Linked DNA regions of Homo sapiens. The protein of the gene in region 1 purifies or fractionates together with the protein of each later gene. This does not show direct contact. Each region holds a gene or a part of one and is shown on either strand. Other genes may lie near its edges. The genes, in order: MSH5 and BORA.

What was found.
Region 2: the proteins of MSH5 (region 1) and BORA purify together in Homo sapiens (affinity purification with mass spectrometry; one large-scale study listed by BioGRID and IntAct). This does not show direct contact.

What each region holds. Positions count from the first base shown.
Region 1 is NC_000006.12:31,753,349-31,757,171, forward strand, and holds part of MSH5 (mutS protein homolog 5), read left to right. Parts: coding exon 1-91; intron 92-218; coding exon 219-281; intron 282-3,823.
Region 2 is NC_000013.11:72,734,123-72,737,945, reverse strand, and holds part of BORA (protein aurora borealis), read right to left. Parts: intron 2,987-3,823; coding exon 2,941-2,986; intron 1-2,940. UniProt on the Homo sapiens protein: Required for the activation of AURKA at the onset of mitosis.

The DNA.
Region 1 (3,823 bases):
TCTGGACGTCATTCAGTTTTTTCTGCTGCCCCAGAATCTGGACATGGCTCAGATGCTGCATCGGCTCCTGGGTCACATCAAGAACGTGCCTGTGAGCCCAGGGTGGAGGGCAGGGAGGTGGGGAAGGAGGTTGAGGGCTGATACTGGGCAGTGGGCTTCTTGAGGGGCATTAGAGTGAGGGAAGAGAAAACAGCGGCTGTAACCTTGTCTGACTGTAGCTGATTCTGAAACGCATGAAGTTGTCCCACACCAAGGTCAGCGACTGGCAGGTTCTCTACAAGGTAAGGCCTTCCTTCTTGAATCCCAAAAGTCCAGGTAAAGGCCCTCAGCCTGTATTCCAGACTGTCTGTACCCTAGACATGCTGTCCAATTTTATTCTACCCTCTTTTTTTTTTTTTTGGAGACAGCCTCGCTCTGTCGCCCAGGCTGAAGTGCCATGGGGCGATCTTGGCTCACTGCAACCTCCGCCTCCTGGGTTCAAGCAATTCTGCCTCAGCCTCCCGAGAAGTTGGGATTACAAGCGCCCGCCACCATGCCTGGCAAATTTTTGTATTTTTAGTAGAGACAGGATTTCACCATGTTGGCCAGGCTGGTCTTGAACTCCTGACTTCAGGTGATCCACCTGCCTCAGCCTCCCAAGGTGCTGGGATTACAGGTGTGAACCACCAGGCCCGGCCTCCCTCTTTTTTTTTTTAACTTTGTATTCAGGAAAATGTAAAAAATATTTAGAATAATATAATTAACCCCCATGTACCCACCATGCAGTTTCAACACTTTAACTTACGCCAATTTTTTTTTATTTCTTTTTCTTTTTTTTTTTAGACAGAGTCTTGCTCTGTCGCCCAGGCTGGATTGCAGTGGTGCGATCTCGGCTCACTGCAACCTCTGCCTCCCAAGTTCAAGTGATTCTCCTACCTCAGCCTCCCAAATAGCTGGGATTACAGGTGCCCACCACCACACTGGAGTGATTTTTGTATTTTTAGTAGAGATGGGATTTCACCATGTTGGCCAGGCTGGTCTCAAATTCCTGGCCTCAAGTGATCTGCCCATCTCGGCCTCCCAAAGTGCTAGGATTATAGGTGGGAGCCACCGTGCCCAGCCTAGTATGTGTCATCTATATCTTTTTCTACTTTCCCCTCTTGGATTATTTTGTGGGTTTTGTTGTCGTTTGTTTGTTTTTTTAAATAAGGTCCTGCTTTGTCACCCATACTAGAGCAGAGTGGTGCAGTCATATTTCATTGCAGCCTCTAACTTCTGGGCTCAAGCAATCCTCCCACCTTAGCCTCCAGAGTAACTGGGACTATAAGCCTGAGATGCTGCACCTGGCTTTCTTGGATTATTTTGAAGCAAGTCCCAGCCATTATATCATTTCATCCATAAATATTTCAGTGTAATTTCTTTTTTCTTTTTTTTTTTTTTTTTGAGATGGAGTCTCACTCTGTCACCAGGCTGGAGTGCAGTGGCATGATCTCGGCTCACTGCAACCTCCGCCTCCCAGGTTCAAGCGATTCTCCTGCCTCAGCCTCCCATGTAGCTGGGATAACAGGCACATGCCACCATGCCCAAGTTTTTTTTTTGTATTTTTAGTAGAGACAGGGTTTCACCATGTTGGCCAGGATGGTCTTGATCTCCTGACCTCGTGATCCACCCGCCTCGGCCTCCCAGAGTGCTGGGATTACAGGCGTGAGCCACCTCACCCGGCCAATATTTCAGGGTAATTTCTAAAAGAAAATTATTTTTTAAAAAGAATAACAGTATTGTTATCTTACTTTAAAAATTGTATTATTTGGTATCATCAAATATCTGAAATTTTTCTTTTTTGAGACAGGGTCTCACTCTGTCACCCAGGCTTGAGTGCAATGGCACAATTGTAGCTCACTGCAGCCTCAAACTGTTGGGCTCAAGCGATCCTCCCCCCTCAGCCTCCTGAGTAGCAGGGACCACAGGTGATGGCCATCACACCGAACTAAGTTTTTATTTTTTGCTTGCATTTATTTATTTATTTATTTATTTATTTATTTATTTATTTTTGAGACGGGATTTTGCTCTTGTAGCCCAGGCTGGAGTGCAATGGTGTGATCTCGGCTCACCGCAACCTCCACCTCCTGGGTTCAAGTGATTCTCTTGCCTCAGCCTCCCAAGTAGCTGGGATTACAGGTGCGTGCCACCACGCCCAGCTAATTTTGTATTTTTAGTAGAGACAGGGTTTCTCCCTGTTGGTCGGGCTGGTCTCGAACTCCCGACCTCAGATGATCTGCCTGCCCCGGCCTCCCAAAGTGCTGGGATTACAGGCGTGAGCCATTGCACCTGACCAATTTTTTATTTTTTGTAGAGACAGGATCTCACTATGTTGCTCAAGGTGGTCTCAAACTCCTGAGCTCAAGTGATCCTCCTGCTTGGGCCTCCCAAAGTGCTGAGACTATTGGTGTGAGCCACGATGCCCAGTCAGATGATGGCCCTAGTCCTTTTTAATCTACCGGTTCCTTCTCTATCTTTTCTCTCTTGTTCTTTCTTTCTTTTTCTCTTTTTCTTCTCCTGGCAATTTGTTGAAGAAACTAGATTATTATTTGTCTTATAGTGTTTTCCATTAGCCTGGATTTTGCTGTTTGCATTTCCTAGATGTTTTTGGCACATTTCTCTCTCTTCTATAGTTTCTGTAAATTAATATTTAGTTCTAGAAGCATGATTAGGTTCAGAGTTTTTTTTTTTTCAATACTGTTTTAGAAGTAGAGGAACATAATGTCTGATATGTCCGATTGTCTCTCTTTTTCTGATGTTGGCAAATGTTCTGATGTTTAATACCTAAATCTATTATTCATTTATTTATTTATTTATTTAGTTTGAGGTGAGTCTCCCTCTGTCGCCAGGCTGAAGTGCAGTGGCACGATCTTGGCTCACTGCAACCTCCGCCTCCTGAGTTCAAGTGATTCTCCTGCCTCAGCCTCCTGAGTAGCTGGGACTTACAGGCGCACACCACCACGCCCAGCTAATTTTTGTATTTTTAGTAGAGACGGGATTTCACCATGTTGGCCAGGATGGTCTTGATCTCTTGACCTCAGGTGATCCACCCGCCTCAGCCTCCCAAAGTGCTGGGATTACAGGCGTGAACCACTACACCCAGCCATCTATTAATTCTTTAGCAATTACAAAGTAGTAGCATTTAAATCTCTGATTCTTTCTTCATTTATTAGCCAGAAATTTCTGTAAAGAGAAACTTCCTTTTATGTACTATTTGGTTGCCAAGTGATAGAAATCATATAGAAATACAGAAAATTGCTTGATATTTCCCCCACTCTTTTTTTTTTGAGACAGAGTCTTGCTCTGTCACCAGGCTGGAGTGCAGTGGCACAATCTTGGCTCACTGCAACCTCCACCTCCCGGGTTGGGTTTCAAGTGATTCTCCTGCCTCAGCCTCCCGAGTAGCTGGGACTATAGGCGTGTGCCACCATGCCTGGCTAATTTTTGTATTTTTAGTAGAGACAGGGTTTCACCATGATGGCCAGGATGGTCTTGATCTCTTGACCTCGTGATCCACCCGCCTCGGCCTCCCAAAGTGCTGGGATTACAGGTGTGAGCCACCATGCCCAGCCCTTTTTTTTTTCCCCAATATGGAACGCTTCTTGAATTTGTGTCATCCGTGCCCAGTGGCCGTGCTAATCCCTGTAACCTTCGAAATTTCAGTATATGTGCTGCAGAAATGAGCACCCCCCACCTTTATTTACTAGCTATCAATATGGTAAATTAGTTCCCTAACATTCTCCAAGATAGCCATGAGATTTTTTTGTTTTTTGTTTGTTTGTTTGTTTGTTTGTTTGAGATGGAG
Region 2 (3,823 bases), on another chromosome or scaffold:
CATACAATTAGGCATAAATTCCACCCAAAATGTGAGACGGTACCTGTGTTTTTCCAAGTAATTATTAAACATGTCATATACTAACTTTATAACTGTATGCAAAAATTTTAATACAAATGACCAAAGGAAAAATGGAAGAAATTTAAAGTATATATAAAGAGGAATCTTAATACTTCAAATCAACCAGTTAAATTTGAAACTTGCAAACTAAACTAAGAGGATTAATCATAGACAAAGTATTTTAAATTTCTTTCCCAGGTTTTTTTGATGGGGTTACAAAAAAAAGGATGAAAAGGGAAGGAATATATTAAGACAGAGACATGCAAGTAGGCCAGTATGAATGACGGCACTGAAGCTGGCTTGTTTGTTCTGGCTCTCAAGATCTGATTATTAAATTTTCAAGAATTCTGTGCACCAGTTGTTAAAACCAATATTAAAAATAAAATTATGTAAACTTACAATTAAATATATTAAAAATAAAGGTAACAAATATCCAAAACTCACCACTTGCTAATTATTTTATATATTTATCAATGTCTATGCTCTTGAGGTTAATAATGTATTTTGTATCTGTATGGTGGAATTCCTACATATAATGGTGTGCCACTATTCTTCCTTTCCCATTCAGTGATGTCACATCAGTAGCTTGAAACTGGCCATGGTTGGAGTACTTACACTATGGATAGCAGGAATCGCTATAAATCGTACTCCTTCCACGACCAGAGAGCAAGTTGTTAAACATTCACCAGCACACTACTGGCCAGTATATTCAAATGAGATAGAGCATTTGTATACTTTTCTTTCCTCTTTCATTTCTACCACAGTGTTTTCCCTTCCCTAGGTTTTGCAAGTAACCAAACATATTTTCTTCATATTTTGCTATACATATGACAAAGAGCTAATTTTCTTAACTAAATTACCCATGAATCTAAGAGGAAAAGATTCTTTTTTTTTTTTTTTTTAAAGGTGGACTGGGGCAGATATAGACAATTACCAGAAAAAAAATTAAAGGACCTATAAACTTACAAAGTGATGTATAAGTTCACTCAAAAGTAAAGAAATACAAAAAAAAAAAGTCATTTTTAAAGTAATAGGAGTAGAACAAATTAAGAATTCTGATAATAATCAATATTGGAGATATGGAAAATCAAGCAGTGTCACACTGTAATCAGGAGTATAAACTGGTATAACCTTTTAGGAGGGCAATATGGTAAAATCTACCAAAACTGAAAATTCACAAAGCCTCTGACTTACTAGGTCCATTTCAAGAATATAAAGATATATATACAAATCACTGCAGCATTATTTGTGACAGAAAAATAATAAACACAATTTAAACATCTGTCAACAGGGGCTAGGTAACTATGCTGTTGCTAAGAGAATGTAAAAATCTGTATATGCTGGTTATCAAAAATTTCTAAGAAAAATCATGAAGCAAAAAAAGGAGGATGCAGTATGAGAACGATAATAGTATGAGAATGATAATCCTATTTGTCGAAAATATTTTAAGGACATATGCTATTAAATAAGTAAAATTAATCTGAAAGTACACATAAGAAATGTTATAGTCATTACCTTCATGAAGTGGGATGGGGAAACAGGAGGCTTTTTATTTTATATTTTTTCTTTTTGTTTTTACTATATGTATATGTTTCTTCTATTTTCAAAAATATATATTGAAAAGAAACAAATTTTCTTAAGTTTACCTGCTGGGTTTCTCTTTAAAATTAAGGATTCTTAAAGAAAGTATTTTTTCAAAATGTTGGAAATTTTGAGAGTCTGAGAATATTCAGGTGGGGAAGAACCAAGTGACTGAGTCAGAATGAAAACTGTGCAGTTACTAGATAGAAGAAGAAGTAGGTAATGTTTAGCAGGAGTAAACATAGTCTTTTGTGGTACGGAAGAGCCAAGTACGGCTAAGGAACAGAGGAGGGTTGAGGGGGCTAGAGGGGCAGAAAAGTAAAAATCAGAAATGCTGCCATCACATAAAGACTTTCTGAGGAAAGAACAAGGTAAGTAACCCTTACTTAGATGCTGGGCCAGGCGCAGTGGCTCACGCCTGTAATCCCAGCACTTTGGGAGGCCAAGGTAGGCGGATCATCTGAGGTCGGGAGTTCGAGACCAGCTTGACCAAGATGGAGAAATCCCGTCTCTACTAAAAATACAAAATTAGCTGCGTGTGGTGGCGCATGCCTGTAATCCCAGCTACTCGGGAGACTGAGGCAGGAGAATCACTTGAACCTGGGAGGCGGAGACTGCAGTGGGCTGAGATCATGCCATTGCACTCCAGCCTGGGCAACAAGAACGAAACGCCGTCTCAAAAAACAAAAAATAATAATAATAATAACCTTATTTAGATGCTAAGAAAGGCAATTCAACAGACATAAAAAAGCAAAAAACTTAATTATTTTTATTTTTTAGAAAGCCTACATTATGATATACCTTTCCTGTTTAACAGTAAGAGATTTTATTTCATGAATATCTTAAAAATCCAAAGTATTAACAAAAAAAGACAAAGCCATTCCCAATGCCAATCTAGACTCTGAAGGCCTGAGAATATTCGACTTCCTCTACATAAACTCCAACTTGAAACAAAGTTTGTGCTAATCAACATTTTGAAGGCACAAGGAAGACAAATTGTGCTAGGTCCTGAGAATGAAAGGATGAAGTACAGTATTGGCCAAAAAAGATTGCGTCTAGGGGACAGAAACACTAAACTGATCATTACAACAGTATGCAAGTGCTATGCAAGGTACTGGGATAGCTGGAAATTATTGGTCTTAGGACAGTACAGAAGGGTGCTTTATATAGATGGGACTGTGAAGGGCTTGGAGGGGAGATAGGACAGTGAAGGAATTGAAGAAAGTCTTCCTAAAAGAAGTGATGTACATGCAGAATTGATCCTTAACTGATTTAATGATCAGTAACAGTTTAAGTTACCTCTTCAATGGCTTTTTGTCTTTTGTCTTCCACATCTTTATCTATTCTATACAAAGATAAAGAAGAAAAATAACCATGCTATTACTTAAGCTTATTGAACATTTTAAAAAATAACCTTTCAAATAAATAATCTCCCTTCATTGAAAACTGGCAAATGTTAAGCTCACTTTATAATTAATACTAGTGGTATCTTGTAACATTTAGTAACATTTAGGCAGTATTCTGAAATTCAGCAGTTAGCTGTTAGGCTTACCTCCCTCTTTTCCATTCAAAGTTTGAATGCAATGATACTTTATTTCAAAAGACTTACATTGATATTAAATTGCTTTTAACAATATAAATTTGATAAACTTTGTCCCTTAATACAAATTAAGAAGTATTTAATTCAACATACATCTAAAAATTGTCCAAAGTTTTTCTCTTCAATTATAACAAGTTTATCATGGCAATAATTTTAGAATCAACTTTTACTGTAAAATAGATGAGGATAGTTCACAGTTCTAAACAGTCAAAAATATTAACTCTGAAATAAAACACTGACAATATAACATTTTTTCCAAATGAATTTTTTTTTCACTTTGATACAATCTGCAATTACTGTTATATAAACTTCTCAGCTACAAGATTTAATATAAAATTTTGGGTCCAAGCACAAAGCATATACTTGCCAAGGACTCAGCAGTTAGCTTTCTAGGACCACTTCTTTATTCCATTACAGGAAAGAATCCTTGCCTTCCATCAGTAAATTGGTAAGACATATTTTTTTTTACAATTTAAAATTATTTTGTCTCAGAATTTTTTCTTTAACTTTTATTTTAAGTTCAGGGGTACAAATGCAGGTTACACAGGTAACTTGTGTCACTGGGGTTTGTTGTACAGATTA